Regions from separate parts of the Homo sapiens genome. Here regions 2 and 3 are each linked to region 1. The links come from fine-mapping of genetic effects on gene expression. A gene starts in region 1. Each other region holds a variant in brackets. All regions are shown on one strand. Distances are between the middles of the regions.

Region 1 (2,771 bases):
CTGACTTAACTGTTAGATAAAATGAAAAAAAAATCTGCATATATCTACATCATACATGCTGAAAACAAAAATGCCAGTGGAAAAATAACATGTACAATATGGCACCATCTTTGTAAATGTTGAAAATACAAAAGCCAATGTTATATATTGTTTATGGCTATAAATGAACGGATTAAAATACAAAGTATGAATAGCAAAGATAACACTAACTTGATGAACCGATGACTCCAGGGCTGAAGGCCTGGGGAAAGGAATGGAGAAGGTCAAGGGGGTTCCTATTGTGACATTGTGTTTACTTTTACAATTTGAAGAAAATATGACAGCATGTTAACATTTGATGGCAGAGTGTATATAAAGTTTATAAGTCTTTTGTTTTCCCACGGTTTTTAATTTTTTTTCTTAATTATAAGTAAACATGTATGAAACAGAACCTCTTTAATTAGGTACAGTTGGCCTCTATATCCCCACTTCTGCATCCATGCATTAAACCAATCCCAGATCAAAAATGTAGTTAGGGCTAGGATGGATGTGTCTATACTGAACACATATGGACTTTTTTCTTATTTCCTAAACAATACAGTATAACAACAAGTAAATAGCATTTACATTGTATTAGGTATTATAAATAATCTAGAGATGATTTAAAGTATGCTGGAGGATGTGCCTAGGTTACATGTAAATACCATGCTGTTTACTATCAAGGACCTGAGCATTCCTGGATTTCAGTATCTGCAGGGGTTCCAGAACCAATCCCCTATGGATATCAAGGGAAGGCAGAATTTGTTAAGTATGATGGCATATCACCGCTCTTATTGCCCCTGAAACTGTTGTCTCATGCATTCTGTCTCTGATATTGAATACTCTCTGGGCTTGTTGCTTCATCTGTAATGTAAGAGGACTGAATAGGTGGTCATTGAAGATTCTTTCTAGCTCAGGCACTGTAGGTGCCACCCCTTTCCCAAACCCTTGTACTCCTCTTTCCCTTTTCAAGGTTCATTACCTGAATGCAGTAACAATCCACCTTCATTTTCTCTATCGCTCCTTTTTCTAAAAGTTACCAGGAAGCGTTTGACCAAAGCATGCTCAGTAGTCAAGTTTGCTAAAACCCTAGGAAAGTTTTTTGTTTTGCTATTCATTTTCTTATGAGTCTTTCCATTTCCATTTACAATAAAAGTCCCAAATTTTCACTCGTCGTCTCTGCCATTGAAGAGGGGTAGCGAGGAGGAGGTGCTAATAGGGAAGATGGCCCATGGGCCCAAGGGTGCTTCTGCGTTCTTACCTGGGCTTCAGACCCCAGCAAAGGAGAAGCTAACTTAGGAACGGACTGCAACGAGGCGGTCATAACTCTGTGAGATCGGGGCAGGGCAGCGTGGGTGGAACAAGTTGTCCTCTGCAGCTCCAGGGAAGAGTAGCTCTCCCTGTTCTCTCAGGGAGGCGGGGGTGTGAAGGGGGGAGGCGGGGAGACAGGGCTGCCCGGATCAGAAACATCCTGCAGCATCTCCGTCTCCGGAGGAAAAATACATTTGTCTGGGCGAACTCCGGTGGAAAAGCGCCCCAGGCTGCCACAGCCTAGAGATCTTGGGGCTGCAGCCCTCGCGGCCTGCCGAGGGAGCAGGGGGCGCCCGTGGAACTGGCTCCCTGCAGCTCTGCGGCTACACGCGGACCTCGGCTGTGTGCGAGGTGGCGGAGGAGGCTGGCCGGGTGCGAATCCGTACCCAGCCCCAGCATCTTCCACCTGCTGAGGACCACCGCTCAGCCATGGGCTACCAGAGGCAGGAGCCTGTCATCCCGCCGCAGGTAAAACTAGCGACTAGGCAGGTTCTGAAGCCAGTTGTCCGGAAATTTCATTCACCTTGCAACAGGTCAGGTCACCTACCTTCACCTGGGCTCTTGGTTTAGCACCGCGAAAAGTTCTCTGGGACAAAAAGTTTTGCCTTAATCTGACTTTTTTTTTTTTTTTTCTTAGCAGGCACTTTAATTTCACAAAATCACATCACTGAATTCCTAACAGATCCTGTACTTAGCAGCTGGGGCAGCTGTAATCTGGAAATTTTAGGATGGAGTTTGCTTACCAAGCTCTGTTGAATTACTAGCTGTTATTGTTATTCTTTATTACTGTTATCCCGGCATTTATTTTATTTTCATTAGTGACATTACTTATTATTACTAGAAAATCGTGTTAGTATCCTGCATTACATATTTGTTACTTTTCTAATTTTCTGAACTAGTATTTGCTTATAATTGCTATTTTATCTATTAGAGAGATTTAGATGACAGAGAAACCCTTGTTTCTGAACATGAGTATAAAGAGAAAACCTGTCAGTCTGCTGCTCTTTTTAATGTTGTCAACTCGATTATAGGATCTGGTATAATAGGTAAGTGTATTTGCTTTGGTTTAAATTTTAAGTGAAAGGGCAAAATTTAAGACTCGCTACGCTGCTAGTGTTCATTAATTATTTTTAAAGAAAAAAAGACTTAAATAAGAAAATTGGTAATTTTCTTCCATAAAAGGCTTCCTTTTTTTCTAGTGTAACAGTATGTATGCATGTCTTTTATGCTGAAGATGGGGCTGTAATTCACACTGTTTCCACAGTTGAGAGCATCTTCCACATGTGGTAGATTAAGGTGAAACTGCATATGGGTGGTGGTGAATCATTTTTCTGTAGGCTGCGTGGTTGATTGCTAGTGTTACCGAATGTACTTTTTCCACTTACTGAAGGGTCCATCATTATTTGAATCATCTTTCTTTAACTTTCTAGAAGTATAAAACT
Region 2 (2,771 bases), 700 kb after region 1:
TGTTTTATTTTTGTTGTTCTTTTTTCCAGATATAGCATCATTTTCCTTTTCTTATATTGTTTTGCTCTAAGTTTTATTTTATCAGATATTAAGATAACTACCAATATTTGTTGGTTGTTATTTGTCCAGTACATTTTTTCCATCTTTATTATATTTAAACTTTTTGGTTAAGTATGAGTATGGATTTAGAGTGTTTAAAAACTTTATTCAGGCTTTTTATATTGCTGAAACCTTTTAAGGGAGCTCATATCTCTTATAAAGGTTATATAAACATTATTCTGATAAAAAAATACATCCACTCAGCTCAGATGTAAGTGAAAATAGTCCATTTAGAAATGAAAAGACCATAATATTGCAGAGCTAGTTAATTGTCTAGGTTTGCAGGTTTATACAGTAAATTATTTAAAGAATGTCTCAAATTTCACTTGGTTTCATACCGTGGAGGCTGAACTTGAATCTGGTGTATTTCCCAGGTTTGTGAAAAGATGTGCAGATGTGAGTAAGAACTTGGAGCTCTTTGAGCCACCTGCTTAGTCATGGTAGTGCAACTGTTGAAAATATGGGCTCTATTAAAAATTCCTCAGTGAGCTATACCACGGAGTACTACCAGCTGGTAGTTTTCCTGGCATATAACTATGGTTCAGTGCCAGCTGCATTGAGGCAGGGCATGAAAAGCAAGATTGAATCCTAGAAGCCGGTAATTAGGTTCATGTGCAATGCTAGGTGACTGAGCTCTTTAAATGAGAAGGTTACAATTTGGAAGGAGACAGAAAAGAACCCGGAATAGAGTATAAAAACAAATATTTGGTAGATTCTTTTTTCTTCTCATGATTGGCTTTAATTGGATTTTTAACAAGTGTATATTAAAAGAAGCAAATTATTCATATTTCAGGCTGCCAGTGTAAGCTAGAATAGATATGTTTGCATGTGAATTATGATAGTTATATTTCCATTTGTCCTTCTTTGTTTAAACGCTGTTTAGATGTATTTTGAAGTTTTTAGAGTACCATGTGTTATTTTGAAAATATATCTTTGAATGCAACTTCTCCCTTGTGAATCAATAGTAATAAGTTAAATCAGAAAACACTGTTTCTCTTTAAAGCTTGGCCATTCTGGGGCAAGTTACAGGCACTTATTTTGATGTTTTACTTTCAAGTTGTCTAAGCAAATTGGAAATAGTGCATTGAAGGCACTTTCACATGTGATATCTGTTAAATGTCATTTACAATTTATGTATTCTTACACAGAATTTTCCCTTCTATCTTTGAAGACTGATAAATAAAATCTCTC[C/T]CCTGCTACTCATTTTTTTCCTATTTGGCAAAGGGAATATTGAAATATATCTTTTAATACTGTAGATAAACAAGGCTATTATTTTATTATTTTATTCATCAATTTCCAAAGGAATGTGACATTTTCCAGCAGCCTCCTTCTTTACAATTACATTTAGTTTGGCAGTGAGATGTGTTTATTTTTAATCCAAGTAATTTCTTCTAAAAATAAAATGCCTCTTAACCCCCACCCCTGAAGGTAAGTGGTAAATTGTACAATCATACTTTTTCATCTATGTGTGAGATATTTACATTAAATATGCATGTCATATATAATATATGCATAGCTGAAAGCAAAAACTGCCACAGTGTCAGAGAGGAATCATTTAAAGAATTTATTCCATAAAACATCTAAAACACTATAAAGAATTAACTAATCCTAATGCAAAGCAACACAAATATGCAGTTGGCACAGCTTATTTTTGGAAGGCAGGGTTTAAGTATATATATATACATATATATGTGTGTGTATATATATTATTTTCTCTCAGTAGATCCATATGTCTCATAATAAGCACACACTGCATGAGATGAAAAGGAGACTAAATACATACATGTATACATGTAATTTTTATGCTACTGCAGTTGAATGTATTGGCTTCATCACTTTAATTTTCTTACACCCTTGCTAGTTCGTTCAATACCTTTACTCAGTATAGGTCAGTCTAAATATGGTAAGATAGGGGATAAAAAGATTTTTTTTTAAATGGAAGAATTGCTCTGATCTGAGGTTCAGCTAATAAAATAAGATAAATCAGAGGCAGGGAGAGGATTGAAGATTTCAGTACATTTAATAAGAATGTCCTCTCATATTTGTAAAGCTCTTAACAGATTTCACCCTCTTCAGTAACCGCTGATATTGTAGATCTCAGAGAGAGTATTTTCAGTGGTGGAACCCTGGCTAATAGGAATTAAGAGATGAGTGAATGGGTAAAAAATCAAGGCAGGGAAAAGACTCTTCTTCTGAGACGTTTGCTATTAAGGAACAATATAAAGCAAAGATGACTGGAAAACCAAAAAAGGCACTTTGTTACACTATATTTTGATTCACTAGAATATATTTATGGGTAGAGGAGAAATGCATAAATGAGAAATTGAAGCATAAATATCGAGCTAGAGGAGAAAAGGATCGTGTTCTCTAATAGAGAGAGGGTAAAATGGGAAAAAGAATAAATAAATATGGAGAAACATTTTTAGTTTGGAATAAAAGCACCGAGGATGTCAATTTTGTGAGATTCTGTAATTACAGTCAGTAGCAGTGTTTCTCCCGAGAAAGAGAAGATTGAAAGACATTTAGAACCTGCTAGAGAAGTTTGTAATTGATGTTGTAGGAAACAGTATAGAAATTAAATAAGGGTTGCTGAAAAGTGCAGTTAAGTACTCAACTGACGCTGAAGTAAGTGGACTCTGTTTAGTGAATTTCACAGCAATTCCTGGCAAAGA
Region 3 (2,771 bases), 33 kb before region 1:
CTGCCTCAGTCCCCCGATTAGCTGGGATTACAGGTGCCCACCACCACACCCAGCTAATTTTTTGTGTTTTTAGTAGAGATAGGGTTTCATCATGTTGGCCAGGCTGGTCTCGAACTCCTGACCTCAGGTGATCCACCCGCCTCGGCCTCCCAAAGTGCTAGGATTACGAGCATGAGCCACCACACCCAGCCCAGTTGTCATTTTTATACTAATGACTACTCAATTGATGTACCAAACCAAACCTCTCATCCAAGCCTGGATTCCAATACCTCTAGTTGTCTACAGAACATCTAAATCTTACCATTTGCAAACTGAACACATCATCCTCCCTCTGGTTGGCAAACTAGCTTTTCTCTTTCTCCTATCTCAAATCTTATCTCAGCAGAAGCCAAGGGTTCCATATAGGGCTATCTGTAGAGAAGAGGGTGCTCATCCTATTTCAGCTTTCAGAATTATGATGGGTATGGTGGTCTAAGACAGAGAAATCAATTTGAAGGAATTTGACAGAATATTATAGCTAGTTATAATGGGATGGATAGTAAGCTGTTAGACCTTTCCAGAAAAGAAGTTCTCGAAGTAAAAGGCAGAGTTCTGACCTTTTATATAGAAACTGGTGCAATGGTTATGGGTGGAGGGGCAGCTGTTAAGGATGTCCAGTTTAGACATCTCTTAGCAAACTGGAAAGCTATCTCCTTCATGCTTATACTGAAGACCCATTTGTTAATTACATGCATGTTGTCTTAGTCCATTTGTGCTCCTGTAACAAAATACCACAGACTATTTTATAAAGAAAAAAATGTACTTTCTCACAGTTTCAGTGGCTGGAAAATATAAGGTAAGGCTCTAGGCATTTGATCTAGTGAGGGCCTTCTTGCTGCATCCTCACATGGCATAAGGTGGAAAGGCAACTAGACAAGCACTGTGTGACGCCTCTTTTATAAGGGCCTTTTAACTCCATTAGCCAGGAAGAGACTGTAAGGCCTAATCACCTCTTAAAGACCATCTTAATACCTTAATACCGATCTCAATCACTTCCTAATACCATCATATTGGCAACAACTGAACTTCGGAGGGGACACATTCAAATCATAACATATGTTGTAATAAGCTGCAAAATGTAAGTTTTAATAGAATAAACTTTTGTTTACCTCTATCATTTATTCACTCTATGAGTTTTTTTGTAATAAATTTTTATC[C/A]CAATATTATAACGATCTCTCAGGAAATCTCTTTATGGTCTGAGATCATCTGACAGCACCATGTACAATCTGTCCTTCTCATAGGAGCAGATGAAATCAACCAGTGGTATTGATGGTTATCTTTTCTTAAGCCGGTTATTGCAGGCATCTGTCTGTCTCTTTGTGGAAGACTCCATGCACATTACCACAGGAAGGAGATCTTGTGATGTAGGCAACTTCCTGGTTAAAGCTCTTGTCAGTTTAAACATGATTACTTACTTTCTGACGTTTGCACTAAGTAGAAAAATATGGTACTTAGAGTCCTAATGAGTATCAACTTTAACCTACCCCAAATGAGGTAAGATCATTGGATATCAGAATTGGAACACAATTTATGTCCTGAAAAAAATAATGAGAAAGATCAAATAAGAGTTATGTAATCTTACTGCAACAACCTAGCTGTAGGAAATAGACACCCTCTATCATCTGCCCCAAAAGATGGAGTGGTCTGAGCCACTAATCCAATTCTAGGGATCCAGATGATTCAGGTAATTCATGAATCCCATCTTCAGACAGAAGGCAAGAGCAGTGCATGAGATATCTCAGTAGCATGATATTCCATTTTATAGGAGCTAAGGGGAAATTGAAACTCTGTGTAGAGTCTCTGTCTCTTAGTGTACTGAAATTTCTCTTTCATTGTAATAAAAAAGATCTGGCCCAAAGGAAAAAAAATTGTCAAAAATTTTGGTATTTCTCAAGGCACCTGAACAAATATACCATAGCCATCTAGGGTTATATTGTCACCACCAGTTGTGTAATTAAAACAAAAAAAACCTTTAAAATTCAGTATCAGAAAGATATAATTAAGAAGAAGAATATCCTTTTATGTATGACAAATCAGCATGTAAATACTTAAAGACTAAAGCTAAGTTATTTTTAAACTATTCATTTTTAAATGATTTGTACAAACATTCCTCTAGGATATGACATTTAAAAATAAAATGTGATTCTATTTATAAAGTCTGTATTAAACAGAATGCTGTATTAAATAAATATATCTAATATGAATGGAATTAGAACTAAATTTTAGTTTGGACAATAGATATTTGTCCAAAAAACTTAAGATTGCAGAAAAGGCTACAATGGCTGATTTCCTTTGGCAAATGGTGGCATACTGCAAGAAAATTTTATCAGAAAATTTTTGTTTTGTCCTTATTTTAGCCTAAGAAAGTTTATAATTCAATTCCCCTTACAAATATATCATAATAAAGATTAGGTGAATTTACCTTGTAAGAGGAAAATTGGAAAAGAGGAAATATCATATAATTTGTAACAACATTTGCAAGGAAAATTCTATAATTAATATATGCCAAATATATTTAGTGAAACCAGAGTTTATTGTTTACCATGCAGCTAGAAGTCCTAATATATTTTTCTTTGCTCTTTTTTTCCTGTTTTTAATATAATCTGTTCCTAAAAACTGCCCAAGTCTTCACCAGCCAACTTAAGGTGATTCCGTGACACCCCATTAAGTTATCATTTATCCTCATTGATCTCATCACCTGCAAACTTTTCAAAGATACTGATACTCTATCT

What was found. PIP is the estimated chance that this variant, and not a neighbour inherited with it, causes the effect.
Region 2: its variant is fine-mapped to the expression of SLC38A11 in subcutaneous fat (GTEx, PIP 0.96).
Region 3: its variant is fine-mapped to the expression of SLC38A11 in lung (TOPMed, PIP above 0.99). The same link has a PIP of 0.9 or more in sun-exposed skin.

What each region holds. Positions count from the first base shown.
Region 1 is chr2:164,954,235-164,957,005 of GRCh38, reverse strand. SLC38A11 (solute carrier family 38 member 11) reads left to right here and starts at 1,481. Exons shown (of 12, transcript NM_001351537.2): 1 at 1,481-1,797; 2 at 2,261-2,375. The coding sequence starts at 1,759.
Region 2 is chr2:164,255,749-164,258,519 of GRCh38, reverse strand. No RefSeq gene overlaps it. Among named protein-coding and RNA genes, the nearest start is that of GRB14, 360 kb to the left of the region's middle. The variant C/T (reference allele first, on the strand shown) is at 1,291.
Region 3 is chr2:164,987,599-164,990,369 of GRCh38, reverse strand. No RefSeq gene overlaps it. Among named protein-coding and RNA genes, the nearest start is that of SLC38A11, 33 kb to the right of the region's middle. The variant C/A (reference allele first, on the strand shown) is at 1,197.